Homo sapiens: one gene and its partner. The protein of the gene in region 1 purifies or fractionates together with the protein of each later gene. This does not show direct contact. Each region holds a gene or a part of one and is shown on either strand. Other genes may lie near its edges.

Region 1 (7,023 bases):
TAGGGCTGTCTTGGCCACCACTGTGTCCCCAGCATCACTCCATGGGGCCCTGGCAGGGACTCATCCCTCTGGTGGACAGGCAGGGGCTGCCAGGACCTGGGGTGGCCACTCCGCTTCTTGTCATTTGTGTGCTGCTGCTGCTGCCGGTGGTCAATCTCCAGCAAGTGCTGCTTCATGCAGTTGGTGATCTCCGGGCCCAGGTGCCAGATGAACACGCAGCTGCGGAGGTCAAAGAGAGACACACAAGGCAGAGGAAGAGTAAGCATGGGAGCCGCTGCCGTGGCTGACCCTGAAGCCACCCACACCACAGCCTGGACCCCATTCTCCAGATGCTCCTGGAAAACACACCCCTATCCGCTTAGTGCAGGGGTGCTGGACTTGCCACATCCACACCCTGGGCCCAGGTCTGGGGCATCCCAGCAAACCAGGGCCTGTTCTGGAGGCCTCAAGACCTGAGGAAGGGGGCTGTGGGGAAGAACTGGGGTAAATCAAAGGGAGTGACAAAAGGGACTTCCTTGAGTACCACCCATGTGCTAAAGAATGTATGTATATCATCTCATTCATTTCTCACCATACAATTTTCTTTTTTTTTTTTTTTTGAGAGAGTCTTGCTCTGTCACCCAGGCTAGGGTGCAGTGACGCGATCTCAGCTCACTGCAACTTCTACCTCCCAGGTTCAGGTCATTCTCATGCCTCAGCCTCCCAAGTAGCTGGGACTACAGGCGCCTGCCACCACGCACAGCTAATTTTTGTATTTTTAGTAGAGACACAGTTTCTCCATGTTGACCAGGCTGGTCTTGAACTCCTGACCTCAGATGATCCATCCACCTAGGCCTCCCAAAGTGCTGGGATCACAGGCGTGAGCCACTGCGCCCGGCCTCATCACACCATTTTTAAGGTAAATGTAAACGGTGGTGTCTTTTACAGGGGAGCAAACTGAGGCTCAGGGGAAATAACCTGCTCAAGGTGACAAGAAAATAAATGGCAGAGCTGGGATATGTTTTTTTAGTGTTTTGTTTTTTTTTTGAGACGGGGTCTTGCTCTGTCACCAAGGCTGGAATGCACTGGCATGATCTGTGCTCCCTGCAACCTCTACCTACCAGGTTCAAGCCATCTTCCCCCTCCTGAGTAGCTGGGACTAGAGGTGTACATGACCACACCCGGCTAATTTTTTGTAGAGATAGGGTTTTGCTATGTTGCCCAGGCTGGTCTCGAACTCCTGAGCTCAAGTGATCCACCCGCCTCAGCGTCCCAAAGTGCTGGGGTTACAGGCGTGAGCCATCATGCCCAGCTTAGAGCTGGTATTTGAACTCAGGGCTGGGTGTGACACCAAGACTCCCACAATCCAAACTGGGCAGTTTAGAAATGCTCTCTACACAGGCAGGCTGAGTGCAGTGCTCATGGTATCTGAGCCACAACTCTCCCAAAGGTCCATGTCCCACCTGTCTCCAGATACTGTGATCAAGTGATGACAGTCATAGGTGAACTTCATGCTGGTAATAATTTCTGCAAACAAAGCAGAGAGGCTGCACTTGCCTTCGGAGTCAGAGGGTGTGGGCGGGTGGGGAGGCATCCCAAGCAGAGAGGCACACCCACCTGAATGGCCAAACATCTTGGCAATGCACTCGCCCGAGTAAAAGTCAATCACTGAGATGCTTTTGTCAGAGCAGCTGGTGGCCAGGAAGGTGCCTGAGGGGTCCACATGGACCTGCCAGGAAAGGGACCCACATGTCACTCCAGCTGCCTGCTTCTTCCTTATGATGAGGCCTGGGCCCCTCCCTCCCCCGTGCTGCATGCACAGCACATGGGACTCTGGCAGGGCAGGAGCTCCCGCTCCCATTCGACACGTGAAGAAATTAACAACCACCGCAGCAGTAACAACAGTAGCCAGGCCCTGTGCTAAGCACTGAACATGTGCAAACTGAACTCCTCCAGAGAACAAGTCTATGAGACAAGCTGTCTGTGTGCATTTCAAGAGATGATGCTTGCCCAAGGTCACACAGTCAGCCTGAGGCAGAACCTGAACCCATAACTGTCCTAGACCAGAGGCTCTGAGAAGGTCCCCCCTTGTCCTGAGTGACCCGTGGCTGGTGTGGGCAAACCAGGAGGGGAGTTCATGCCTCTGATTCTTCCCACCATACCCTGCTGCCACTCAAAATGGAACCCACTTAGACGCCCCACTTGGGGAAGGGCTCTGTAAATAAAGGAAACACAGCTGGGGTCACCCTCCCCACCCTCTCGCAAGCATCCTTGTTTAACCAGGCCTGAGAAGGTGCTGGGCAGCGCGGTGCACTGAGGAAGGACCAAGGGCACAGGTCTCAGGTGTGGGCCGTCACAATAGGTGGCCCATCAGGGCAGCAGACAGACAGGGGTCTCCAACTCCTCACCTTCAGCAAGGACCCTTCGTCACCCTGGGAGCCCTTGTAGCACTTCTTCTGCTTCCCGTTCACAGTGTTGTAGACTCTGGGGAAGTAGGGGCATGTTGCGGCCAACAGGGCCCCGCCTACCCCACCACCTCATTCTCTGGCTCTTGCTGTCCTCCCCTCCCCTGGAAGCCCCCTGCTACCTCTTGTCCCCATCTGATGCCTAGACTGAAACTGAAACCCCATCTCAAGCTGAGGTTGTCCTGGGGTATCCACTGAGTTAATGTTCATCTCCCCCACACACTGCAAGCTCAGTGCTTGGCACCGCATGAGAAAGAACTGGGAAGGGGTGCAGAGCCTCTTTGCACTGCTTTGCCCTCTGCACACTCACTCTCTGCCTCCCCCTGGCTCGCTCCTCCACATCCTCCCCAGGCTAAGGTGTCTCTTCCTCCAGGAAGTCCTGCTTGATCCGCAGGTGGGGTCAGGTGTCTCCACAGGGCCCCTGGGCTCCCCCATCTCTGACCACTCTGTCACTGTCTGTGGCTGTGAGGTGGCCGTGTCCATTCTACTGGACTGTGAGCTCCATGAAGGAGGGCCTGGGGCTATCCTGGCCACTGCCATGATCCCAGCACCATCCAGCCCAGTTAGGTGCTCAGGGAATACGGGTGAATGAGGGAGTTTATGTGCCACATCAGCACCTTAGTCATCCCACACCGGCTCTAGGGAGAGCCAGAAGAAAGCCCTCTGCTGACCTGGAGGCCAGGCTTGGGAGAGCCCAGCTTCTAAGAAATACCTGCTGGTGGCCGGGCACGGTGGCTCACGCCTGTAATCCCAGCACTTTGGGAGGCTGAGGTGGGCAATATCACCTGAGGTCAGGAGTTCGAGACCAGCCTGGCCAACATGGCGAAACCTCGTCTCTACTAAAAATACAAAAAATTAGCTAGGCATGGTGGCAGGCGCCTGTAATTCCAGCTACTTGGGAGGCTGAGGCAGGAGAATCACTTGAACCCAGGAGGTGGAGGTTGCAGTGAGCTAAAATGGTGCCACTGCACTCTAGCATGGGCAACAGAGCAAGACTCTGCCTCAAAAACAAAAACAAAAAAAAACCAAGAAGGAACACCTGCTGGGTCCCTCAATTCCTTCCCAGCTTCTTGGGGACCAGAGGAACAGAGGGAGGAAAGCAGACAGCCTAGGACAAGGCAGACCAGGCCAGCTAAGGGTCCAGGGCCACCCCTTACCTCACATTGCGGTCCTGGCAGGCCACGGCCACGTACTTCTGGGTGATGTCAATGTCCATGTCATACAAGGTGGTTTTCTCTGCTACGTGGTGGGTACGGACAAAGTGTAGTCCATCCGAACCCTGGCAGGGCCGGCAGGACCTTCAGAGAATGCCCCGACAACCCCCCACCCCAGCCCCCAAGGAGGCCATGCCACCCTACCTGCTGGGCACTGCGAAAGTAGATGCTCTTGTCAGCCCCACAGCTGATCATCTGGATGTCTCTGTTGCCTAGGGGAGGAGGACGCTGTGTGTTAGGCAGGGCTGGGCCACATGGGCAGGGGACCCTAGCTGGGGAACTCCACTGCAAGAGCCATCAATCAACTGTGCTGGGATCAAGGCTTCCTAAAGGTGGTGAGGTGGGTGCTGGGTCTGGGTGGGACTCTGTAAGGTATGAGCTGTACGTGTGAGGGGGCACAGGTGGAGCTGTGGCCAAGGCAGGCTCTGCAGAGCAAGGGCATATAGAGAAACAAAGGCTGGGGACAAAGAAGGGACACCCTCTCCAGTCTGGGATTGAGATAGGTGACTTGAGTAGCGGAGTAGAGGCAGGACTGCAGCAGCGACCAGTGGAGACAGGCTGGGAGGCTCGTGCCATCAGGATCAACTGCAAGATCCACATGAGCCTTGGGCCAGGCCCCATGCATGTAGCGGGTCTTCCTGAATGCTCACCACCCATCCCACTGGACAAGCATGAACACAGAGGTTCACAGAGTCCTTGTCCCAAGGCACACAGAGAGGACAGGGGCAGGACTGAACCCAGGCATTCTCTGGTGCCAAGGTCAAAGCTGTTAAACACTGCTCTGAACCTGGGCCTCCCCTTTGAGCCTCAACTTCCGGTCCGTACAATGGGCATGGTGACAGTTCCTTCTCTGGAGAGTGATGTGAAGCCCTTGGAACAGGGACTGCCACATGGTAAGCATTAGAAACATTCTTGCTTTTATTATTCTCATTTCTTTTTTTTTGAGACAGAGTTTCGCTCTTGTTGCCCAGGCTGGAGTGCAATGGCGTGAGATGCCCCCGGCCGTCTCATTTCTTTACAGAATAACAGTTTGGTGAGGATGAAATGACAGAACAAATATAAAACTCTGAGTCTGGGCACATCACACATGCTCCTTCATGACAGGACATTTGAGAGGGTCCAGGCCTGACATACAAGTATTAGATGTTGCTCAAGGAGGAGTCATTGGCTCACAGAAGGGAGTGAGCCCCATATAAGGGAGGAAGGGTAACCTGGGAGGGACCCAGAGAAGGCCTGCAAGCCTCTGGTAATGTTCTGCTTCTTAACCTGCACGTGGTGAATCCAAGTACCGTATTTAACAATATTACGACCATGAGCAATTAGAACAGTCTCTGCTATCAACAACGTCCTAGTTCAAACCTTGCTCCTAAGAACTGTGGATACTCACTTCGGCCACCACGCCCAGCTTATTTTTTATTTTTATTTTTTTTGAGATGGAGTTTTGCTCTTGTTACCCAGACTGGAGTGCAGTGAAACAATTTTGGCTCACTGCAACCTTGGCCTCCTGGATTCAAGCTATTCTCCTGCCTCAGCCTCCCAAGTAGCTGGGATTACAGGTGTGCACCACCATGCCCGGTTACTTTTTTTGAATTTTTAGTAGAGACGGGGTTTCACTATGTTGGCCAGGCTGGTCTTAAACTCCTAGCTTCAGGTGATCTGCCTGCCTCAGCCTCCCAAAGTGCTGGGATGACAAGCATGAGCCACCACGCCCGGCCTATATTCTTCTTTTTTTTTTTTTTGAGACAAAGTCTCGCATTGTCACCCAAGCTGGAGTGGAGTCACTGGCGCAATCTTGGCTCACTGCAACCTCCGCCTCCCGGGTTCACACAATTCTCCTGCCTCAGCCTCCCGAGTAGCTGGGATTACAGGTGCACACCACCATGCCTGGCTAATTTTTTTGTATTTTTAGTAGAGATGGGGTTTCACTATGTTGGCCAGACTGGTCTCGAACTCCTGACCTCATGATCTACCTGCCTTGGCCTCCCAAAGTGCTGAGATTACAGGTGTGAGCCATGGTACCTGGCCATTATTCTTTTTTTTTTGAGACAGGGTCTCACTCTGTTGCCTAGGCTGGAGTGCAGCCTCCACCTCCCAGGTTCAAGCAATTCTCCCACCTCGGCCTCCTGAGTAGCTGGGATTACAGAAACAACACCCCGCCCAGCAAATTTTTGTATTTTTAGTAGAGACGGGGTTTCACCATGTTGTCTAGGAAGGTCCCGAACTCCTGACCTCAGGTGATCCACCCTCCTTGGCCTCCCAAAGTGTTGGGATTACAGGTGTGAGCCATTACACCCGGCCCCAGTCATTATTCTGTATACTGTACACAGATACTGTATTCACTTGTTTGGATATATATTTTACAGGAGAGTTGAAAGAATGAATCCTTTTTTAGCAGGGTAGCTAGCAAGGCGCAGGGAGCGGGAAGAAAGGGGCTCACCAGCGAACTTGATGGCGGTGATGGAGGAGGAGTGGTCATCCAGCGTCTGCTCCAGGTTGTAGTTCTTCTCCACGTTCAGCACATGGATCAGCCGGTCCCGACTGGCTGAGGCCAGCAAGGTCAGCCCTGTGAGAGGAGAGAATGAGACTGGTTCCTGAAGGCTGCGTGGGTGCCCTGGCCTCCCAGAAGGGCAGTGTGACCAAGCTGCCCAGTCCTCGGAGAAGGGGTCTTTGGTTCTTCAACTGTAGCCAACTTGGCCCAAGCCTGGCAAGGGCCACTCCCTTAGCTCTGTGTGGTCTTTCCCAGAGCCCCCACACCCTGGCATTTCACCTCCTCACCACCAGCTCAGGGAGGATGAGTCTCGATGGGCGCATGGACGCTCCTCCAGGGACATCCACAGCAGACGCCCCAGCAGAGCCCAGCGCTCTTGCCTGCTGGGTCTGTGCTGGGTAAAGCCCTGGCAACCTCTCAGCCTCTTCCAAAACCAGTGTCCTCTCACCCTCTGAGGTCTGGCTACCTGGGCCTTGTTCAGGTCCTATTGACTGCCTGTGGCCAGACTCCCATCTGCCACCAGCCTTCCCTACTCTGGTCACTTGCTATGTCTGAGGCCTAATAACATGACCTGAGGCAGAGGGGAGATCAGGAGAGGCGAACCGAGTGAAGATATGTTTCAAGACAAGTTGGTGGGGCACACAGCATGGGGGATGAGAGAACGAAAGAAGAACATGGGGAAAATCACATCAGGATATAACTCCACCAACTCTGTAACTCCCAAAGTGCTGGGATTACAGGCATGAGCCACCGTGCCCAGCCTAGAAAACATCTTGAGGAGCCGGGCATGGTGGTTCACGCTTGTAATCCCAGCATTTTGGGAGGCCAAGGCGGGTGGATCACCTGACGTCAGGAGTTTGAGACCAGCATCGTGCAA
Region 2 (7,023 bases), on another chromosome or scaffold:
GTTATCTAAATAGTTTGAAAGGATTGATATACTACATTATACGTCAAAAATAAATAAATAAAATTAAGAAGACAGGGATTCCAAGATTGTAGCTGACCAAGCTGTCTTGTTTTGCGTACATCAACACTATGCTGCTTCCAATATTCCTAGCCATTCCACAGGTAATGATTTTTCAACAATCAAGAGAAAGTCATTCTTGTACTGTAACATCTTCCTCTTCCCCATCGGGGTTGAATCTATTGAAATGTATACTGAAATCAGCCTCAGATTCAGCATTCTCAAATTCAGCTGCGGCTGAAACAGCAGCAGGATGAAGAGCCCTAGCTTCTGGTTGGCCAAGTGTTGGTGTCTGACCCGGGCTGTGGTGGTTATTCACAGGGCTGGACTTCTGTTTCGGTGGAGATGGCAACATAGCACTGGGAAATCCCATGTTGTTCAGAGCCTCCAAAGTTCCATCAGGATCAATCATAGCATTGATTGCTAAAGGGCGGGAAAAGGAAATAATTTTAGATGCAGTTACATTCACATATAAACACTGTTCATGATTTGGATAATATTTAAACTATCAGTGCGTATGTGATCTTAAATGTGGCTAATCTTCCAATATTATATTTAAAACTCCATTCTTAGTTATTCTGTAGCTGTACTGTAAATCACCCAGCCCTGAATACTTTCTCTGGGTCCTTTGATGTGGCACTTACGGGCATTTCAGAGACTTGTAAGTCTGGTATTTGAAGATGTGGAATTCAAGAAAAATCTTGTTGAAATTTGTCTTCATTATTGTGAGAGGACCGAGAAAATACTGAATATGATTTTTAATAAACATCTAAACCCACATCACTCAGATAACTGAGGTATTAGCTGCTAAGTCAGGGTTCAGAGTAACCTCAAGGCTGGAGAGGCCAGAAGAACATCAGCATACTTTGAATGCTACCATAGAATACGGTCATTTAGCCTGGCCAGAGTGCTAGGGTTATCAGCTGTATACACCACTGAGATACAGGGGTTCCCTCAGAGCCTACAGACTAATATCACAGGGCAGCTTGCAAAGCCAAACAGACTTGCTGCCTATATGGAAGGGGTCAGTTAAAGGTCAGCTTTCAGTCCAAAAGATCTTTGGGTTGACATGGAAAGTTCTCAGGCGGTGATTTTCAATTTGGCATTGGGCAGAGTAGGGAGTTGGGAGAAGGAAGTAACATAGATGTAAGAATCATGTAGAAGGGACTTTTAAAAGTATACCCCCAGTCTACCAGCTAACAAGCACTGTGTTAGCAAGCCACTTTTACTCATGGGGTGTACCATAACCCTTAGGTGTGTTGGGGCTAAATAAAGATGAAAAATCATTTTGATAGGATCCACATAAGTACCTATGATTATTCGATAGATAAAGACTCAGTAGAATTAGCAGTTGACTATGGAACCTGCCTGTTGTACCACTGGGGACTTCTGGGTCAAGACATACATAGGCATTAATGCACAGCCCAGCTCTGACAAGTTTAGAGGGCAGCCTCTTTCACTTTCTTCTCTCCTTTCTCTTCTGGTCTCTATGGCCAATATGTACTCATTTCTTGTCAACCAAACAACTATTATTTCTATTAGAATGTAAGTTTGTTTCAGGTTACACCACCAACATAATTTAAGAACTGTCAAATCACACAAATAATGCTAATTAACACAACTTTATTATATATTTTTCACATATTATTTATATGTAATACATAAAAAATTTCAATTAGTTTATGACATCTAGCCTACTGTCAAACCTATGAACTAAAATATGCCCAACATATATCTTTATTACATTTTAAATTTTTATACTGGGTTTAAAAAAATTCCTTTTTATGAATAATGTGAATGTTTGAACTCTGTATTTTATGTATGTCATTACATTTAATCAAATAACATCCTAACAATATTTTAAGAAATACCACTCAGAAGGCACTTATTCTAAATTATTAGCTCTTTATACTTAATTCAGTAGTAAATTTACCTTGCAGCTGCTTTTCTACTCTTTTCAGTTCCTGTAAGATAGAAGAAATCTCCTGCAGGGAAAGCAATAACAAAAATTAGCCTACTTTTAGCTAAATGTTATCACTTTACAAGCAATGAATTTCACTCTCACTTTATTTGGAACACTTAATATTATCTACATGGTACTTACTACATTAATAGCAACATGATATGAAATAATTATGATATCTAGCAAACAAGATTCAAATTAAAATATTTAAACTAAAATGAAATACAATAACTTTTTCAGTGAGATGATTGTAGCAGATGAAAAGTTTAACATTTACTACTATTTAAGCAAAGATTTTTTTTTTTTGAGACCGAGTCTCACTCTGTCGCCCAGACTGGAGTGCAATGGCGCAATCTTGGCTCACTGTAACCTCCTCCTCCCAGGTTCAAGTAATTCTCTTGCCTCAGCCCCCAAAGGAGTTGGGATGATAGGCGCCCGCCACAATGCCTGGCTAATTTTTGTATTTTTAGTAAAGACAGAGTTTCGCCATATTGGCCAGGCTGGTCTTCAACTCCTGACCTCAAGTGATCCGCCCTCCTTGGCCTCACAAAGTGCTGGGATTATAGGCGTGAGCCACAGTACCCGGCCGCAAAGATTTTTAAAATTCTTATTAATCAACCTTGCAATAACTATGTAAAAATGCCTTCAAATTATCTTTGTAAAAACATATAAACTGCAACCTCAATATTATAATTATATTCTGAGCAATGAAAATCTGTACAAATTCTTTTAAAAAGAAGATAAGCATTATATTAAGTAAACGGAAACGACTTATGTCAACTTAATATTTTCATGTTAGATTTGGTTCTCTTTAAAAATTTCATGTTTCTAATGTTTAATTATTACAAGAACAATCTATACTAGTAAGAAACACAAAAGGCTCCTCCTTCATACCCTCTGCAACTTTGAAACAATCAACATTTTAAACCTGTGAGTCAGTAGAAGAAATAAAATTTCCCAAAATTTTGCATTTATATCTTCTTTTGAAAAAGCAAATCAACGAACAGCTCAAAAATAAGGGTCTTTTCCTTAAAATAAAACTCTATTAAAATGTTTTAATCTTCAAGAAAAATTACTATACCATGCTTGAGGTTTTCACAATAGGGACTTCACTTTCGGCTCTTAATTTGCTTTCTATGTCATCCCAATTCCGATCTTTGTCTTTAAATAATATTCTATAAATCAAAAAACATAAGCATATAACTTTTTATATTTTAAAAACCTATTACTTTTTTGTTAATAATACCAAAGCAATGTATCTTTTCAAAGGTACACAAAGAAAAAAAACCAACCACCGCATAAACTGAGAATTAAAATACTAAGCCAACAGTACCAATTAATTCATGTGTATGAGCTCCAATTGAATGCTTATTAATACATGCATAAATTCTTTACTGTTTATCTTATTCTTTATTGAAAACAAAATATAAAACAAATGTAAATGATGTTATGACCTCAAAACTTTAATATTTATAATTTACAATACAGTAATGCCCTCTTATCCACAGTTTCTCTTTCCATGGTTTTAGTTAGTGGCAGTCAAGCATGGTCCGTAACTATTACAGTATTTTGGGAGAGGGAGAGAGAGAGAGAGAAAAAAAAAGACCACATTCACATAACTTTTTTTTACAGTATATTGTTACAAATGTTCTATTTTATTATTAGTTACTATTGTTAATCTCTTACTGTGCCTAATTTATAAATTAAACTTTATCATAGGCATGTATGTGTAGGAAAATACACAGTATATTAGGTTTTAGAATTATCTGTGGTGTCAGGCATCCAGTGGGTATCTTGGAACAACATGTATCACCTGGGTATAAGGAGAAAAGACTGTGTAACTGTCACTTATAAAGAAAATGCAATTTTATTCAGACAGAATATATGCAGTATAGGAATAAGTGAGATGAAAATAGGTTGAATTAGGTATAAACAATTGTGTCTGTTAAGACCTCTTTATATGGGAATAAGCACCTTATCGATCAAGAAAAGTGTGTATATTATTTTGAAGACAAAAAATTGGGAGTACTTACTGTGCTTTTCTTTAACAATTGTTAATTCGTGTTAGTATACTTGCACATAATAACCTATTAGGAATTAGGATGCTACCCTTTTGATAAAAACAATTGCCAATAAAGATAATTATCCTATCATTACCCTAACATCAAATAACTTATAAAATAAAGGACCACAAAATTTTGACGTGTCTTTCAAATGTGGGACACTTTTCTAACACTTTAGAGTCTATCAGACATGATTCAGCAGTCTTAGATGTAAATACTAGCTACTTTTTTGGTTTCTTTTAAATTTTTTTCAGTAAGCCTGGAAATCTAGTTTAAACAACACTATATAACCTCATGTAAATGTATTACTACTGCAAGCTGATCAGCATTTAAGTAGTAAACTAAGTTAATATTTGTGCTGGTATTTCTTCAAAGATCAACATGCCAGACTTACCTTATTTAAAAACATGAAACTCATTAACATCACATCAAGTCTGGAACATTTGCTTAAGGTGGCAACGGGTCTAGAATCTGGTATAAGAATATTCTTATGGCCTACTTATTAAATTTTCTAAACTCAAAAAAATGAACACCCTTGCCAGCCATCTTTTCTAAATTATTATGTTCTTGTAAAAGAGTCCTTGCAGCATTAGGACTGATGGAAAATAAGGAAATAATGACTATTTCATGGACCAGCTTAGAACTGTAATGGACTTATACAATAGAGAAAGACTCTGTTTAGCCACACAGTGCTAAAAATTCAGTGAATTTTTCCAGAGGATGGCTACTGAGTATAGTGTTTGTGGATCTAAAACTGTTAAACCATAGACATTTCACCTTTGGTGAAAATGGGTTTTTCACGGGTTGCCCCTGAAAAAAAAATGCCCCCCTGAAGAAATAAATGGTTTATTTTAAAATACAGTTTGTTGGCCAGGCACAATAGCTCATGCCTGTAATCCTAGCACTTTAGGAAGCCAAGGTGGGTGGATCACTTGATGCCAGGAGATCGAGACCAGCCTGGGCAACATGGCGAGACCTCGTCTCTATAAAAAATACAAAAAAATTAGCAGGTGTGGTGCAGATGCCTGTAGTCCTAGCTACTAAGAAGGCTGAGGTGGGAGGATTGCTTGTGCCCAGGGAGGTCGAGGCTGCACTGAGTGAGTGAGTTGTGAACATGCCACTGCACTCCAGCCCATCTCAAAAACAAAAAACAAAAAACAAAAAAACAAAAAAACAAAAAACAATTTGTAATATATAATAGAACAGATCTAAGAAGTCAAACTTGTCATTTTGGCATTATGAAATAAACTTTACTATAATATTTACTATAATATTTAATATTTAAATACTAGAGAATCAGAAAACCAGACCAAGAAATTAGTTTAGACCAGGCTATAATGACCAGAACTTGTTTTTGTTTGAAGGTCCTTATCAATTTTAAGCTGAAAAAATCATAGCTTTCAAAGTGATATTCAGATTATATTATAGATTCAAAATAAGCTAAACTTCAGCATGAAAATACATAAAATTCCAAAGCTTATTTCATTCAATAATTTAAGAATTAAGTTAAAATACTTTTGATAAAGCCATTGGTTTTAGGGAAACAAACAGAAGTCTCAGGCTCCTATTCTATGAGCCATAACCAATTCCCTAGTACTAGCCCTTAAAACATGCGAACGCGGAGTTGCGAATTGAGAGTCTACCAATGCAAGGCCATGCTACACAACCTAAGGGGGTCATTTTCACATGGAATGCAATGAGAATGCTGTACAACAGGAGTTCCTGTATAAATATTTAAAAATGGATTCCACAGACAGTGTTCATACAATGTAAGTACGCATGCCTCTAGGATGAACCCCAGTAGACATTTGAGGTTATAACTCCTGACACAAAGCTTAAAGACCAGTTGATTCTCAAACTACCCTGGCACTTTCCACGCAGAAGGCCCAGGTCTCTACCCCTTAGGTTTGGTTATCACAACTCAGACCTACCTTTGAATAGTATCTTCTTCCCAAAGCCTTCCCTAAACCTCCTAGGTGAAAGTGATCCTTCCTTTGCCTTTATATCTCTAACTGAGCACTAATCTATTATACGCTATCTTGTACGACAGTTGATTGCATATGTGCCTCACCTTGCCAACTACACTGGAAACTCTTTAATAATAGAAATGGTTTTATCCTCATTACCTTCCATAAAGCCTGCCATAGTGCTTTATGCATAGTAAAACTCAACACTCGAACTGAAGGCAATTCAAATACATTAAACATTCTGTATTTATGTATAACTTTATTGAGGCATTTTTATGCATCCTTTTTTAAACTTTATAAATTCTGTCACTTTCTGAGACAACACAGGTTATCAATCCATCAGCAATGTCTTCTTTGTTCTCAATTTTAGTTCAATGTCAAAGCTACAAAAAATATTTTTCTTTGGGGGAGACTACAGAACGTAGGAAAGCTGCTCCGTGGTAAGGAAGAGAATGGTACACAGCAGGTAATCTGTGAACATCTGCTGAATAAATGAATGAGTGGTTAAGACTCCAGTTAGCAGGGACGGACCTGTATTTCAGTAGGTAGGATGAAAAAACACTGTGTACTTGTTTACAGGTAAGGAGACTCCAGGGTTTTCCAGGTGCAAGCCACATGACCATACAAGACTCTCATGATATTTTTACAGATAGCACTGGTGTATCAAGAGGACCCATATTGGATATATTAGCTTCCTATGGTTTTTAATAATAAAATCCAAACTCCTTAACAAATTCTGCCAAAACAGATCCATCCTCATCTCTCTAGTGTCATCTCTCACCATACTCTGGCCCTTTCACTTCACATAGCTTTTGAGTAACTCCTCTCCTCATCATTCAGGACTTAAATTGCATGGCAATTTCTCTAAGAGCCCTTCTCTGAATTTCCCAAGTGCCCTTGCTATGGGCTTCCATAGTAACCATCCTATATTTCCCTTAACACACTGAACTATAATTAACTGTTTACCTGCCTT

What was found. Proteins that work in one complex are often made in the same cells at the same time.
Region 2: the proteins of WDR62 (region 1) and CEP170 purify together in Homo sapiens (affinity purification with mass spectrometry; 3 studies listed by BioGRID and IntAct, with this or other methods). This does not show direct contact.

Annotation. Positions count from the first base shown.
Region 1 is NC_000019.10:36,085,885-36,092,907, reverse strand, and holds part of WDR62 (WD repeat-containing protein 62), read right to left. Parts: intron 6,222-7,023; coding exon 6,096-6,221; intron 3,871-6,095; coding exon 3,803-3,870; intron 3,724-3,802; coding exon 3,602-3,723; intron 2,464-3,601; coding exon 2,388-2,463; intron 1,709-2,387; coding exon 1,597-1,708; intron 1,507-1,596; coding exon 1,443-1,506; intron 220-1,442; coding exon 97-219; intron 1-96. UniProt on the Homo sapiens protein: Required for cerebral cortical development. Plays a role in neuronal proliferation and migration.
Region 2 is NC_000001.11:243,126,259-243,133,281, forward strand, and holds part of CEP170 (centrosomal protein of 170 kDa), read right to left. Parts: intron 3,196-7,023; coding exon 3,102-3,195; intron 2,043-3,101; coding exon 1,991-2,042; intron 481-1,990; coding exon 191-480; 3' UTR 1-190.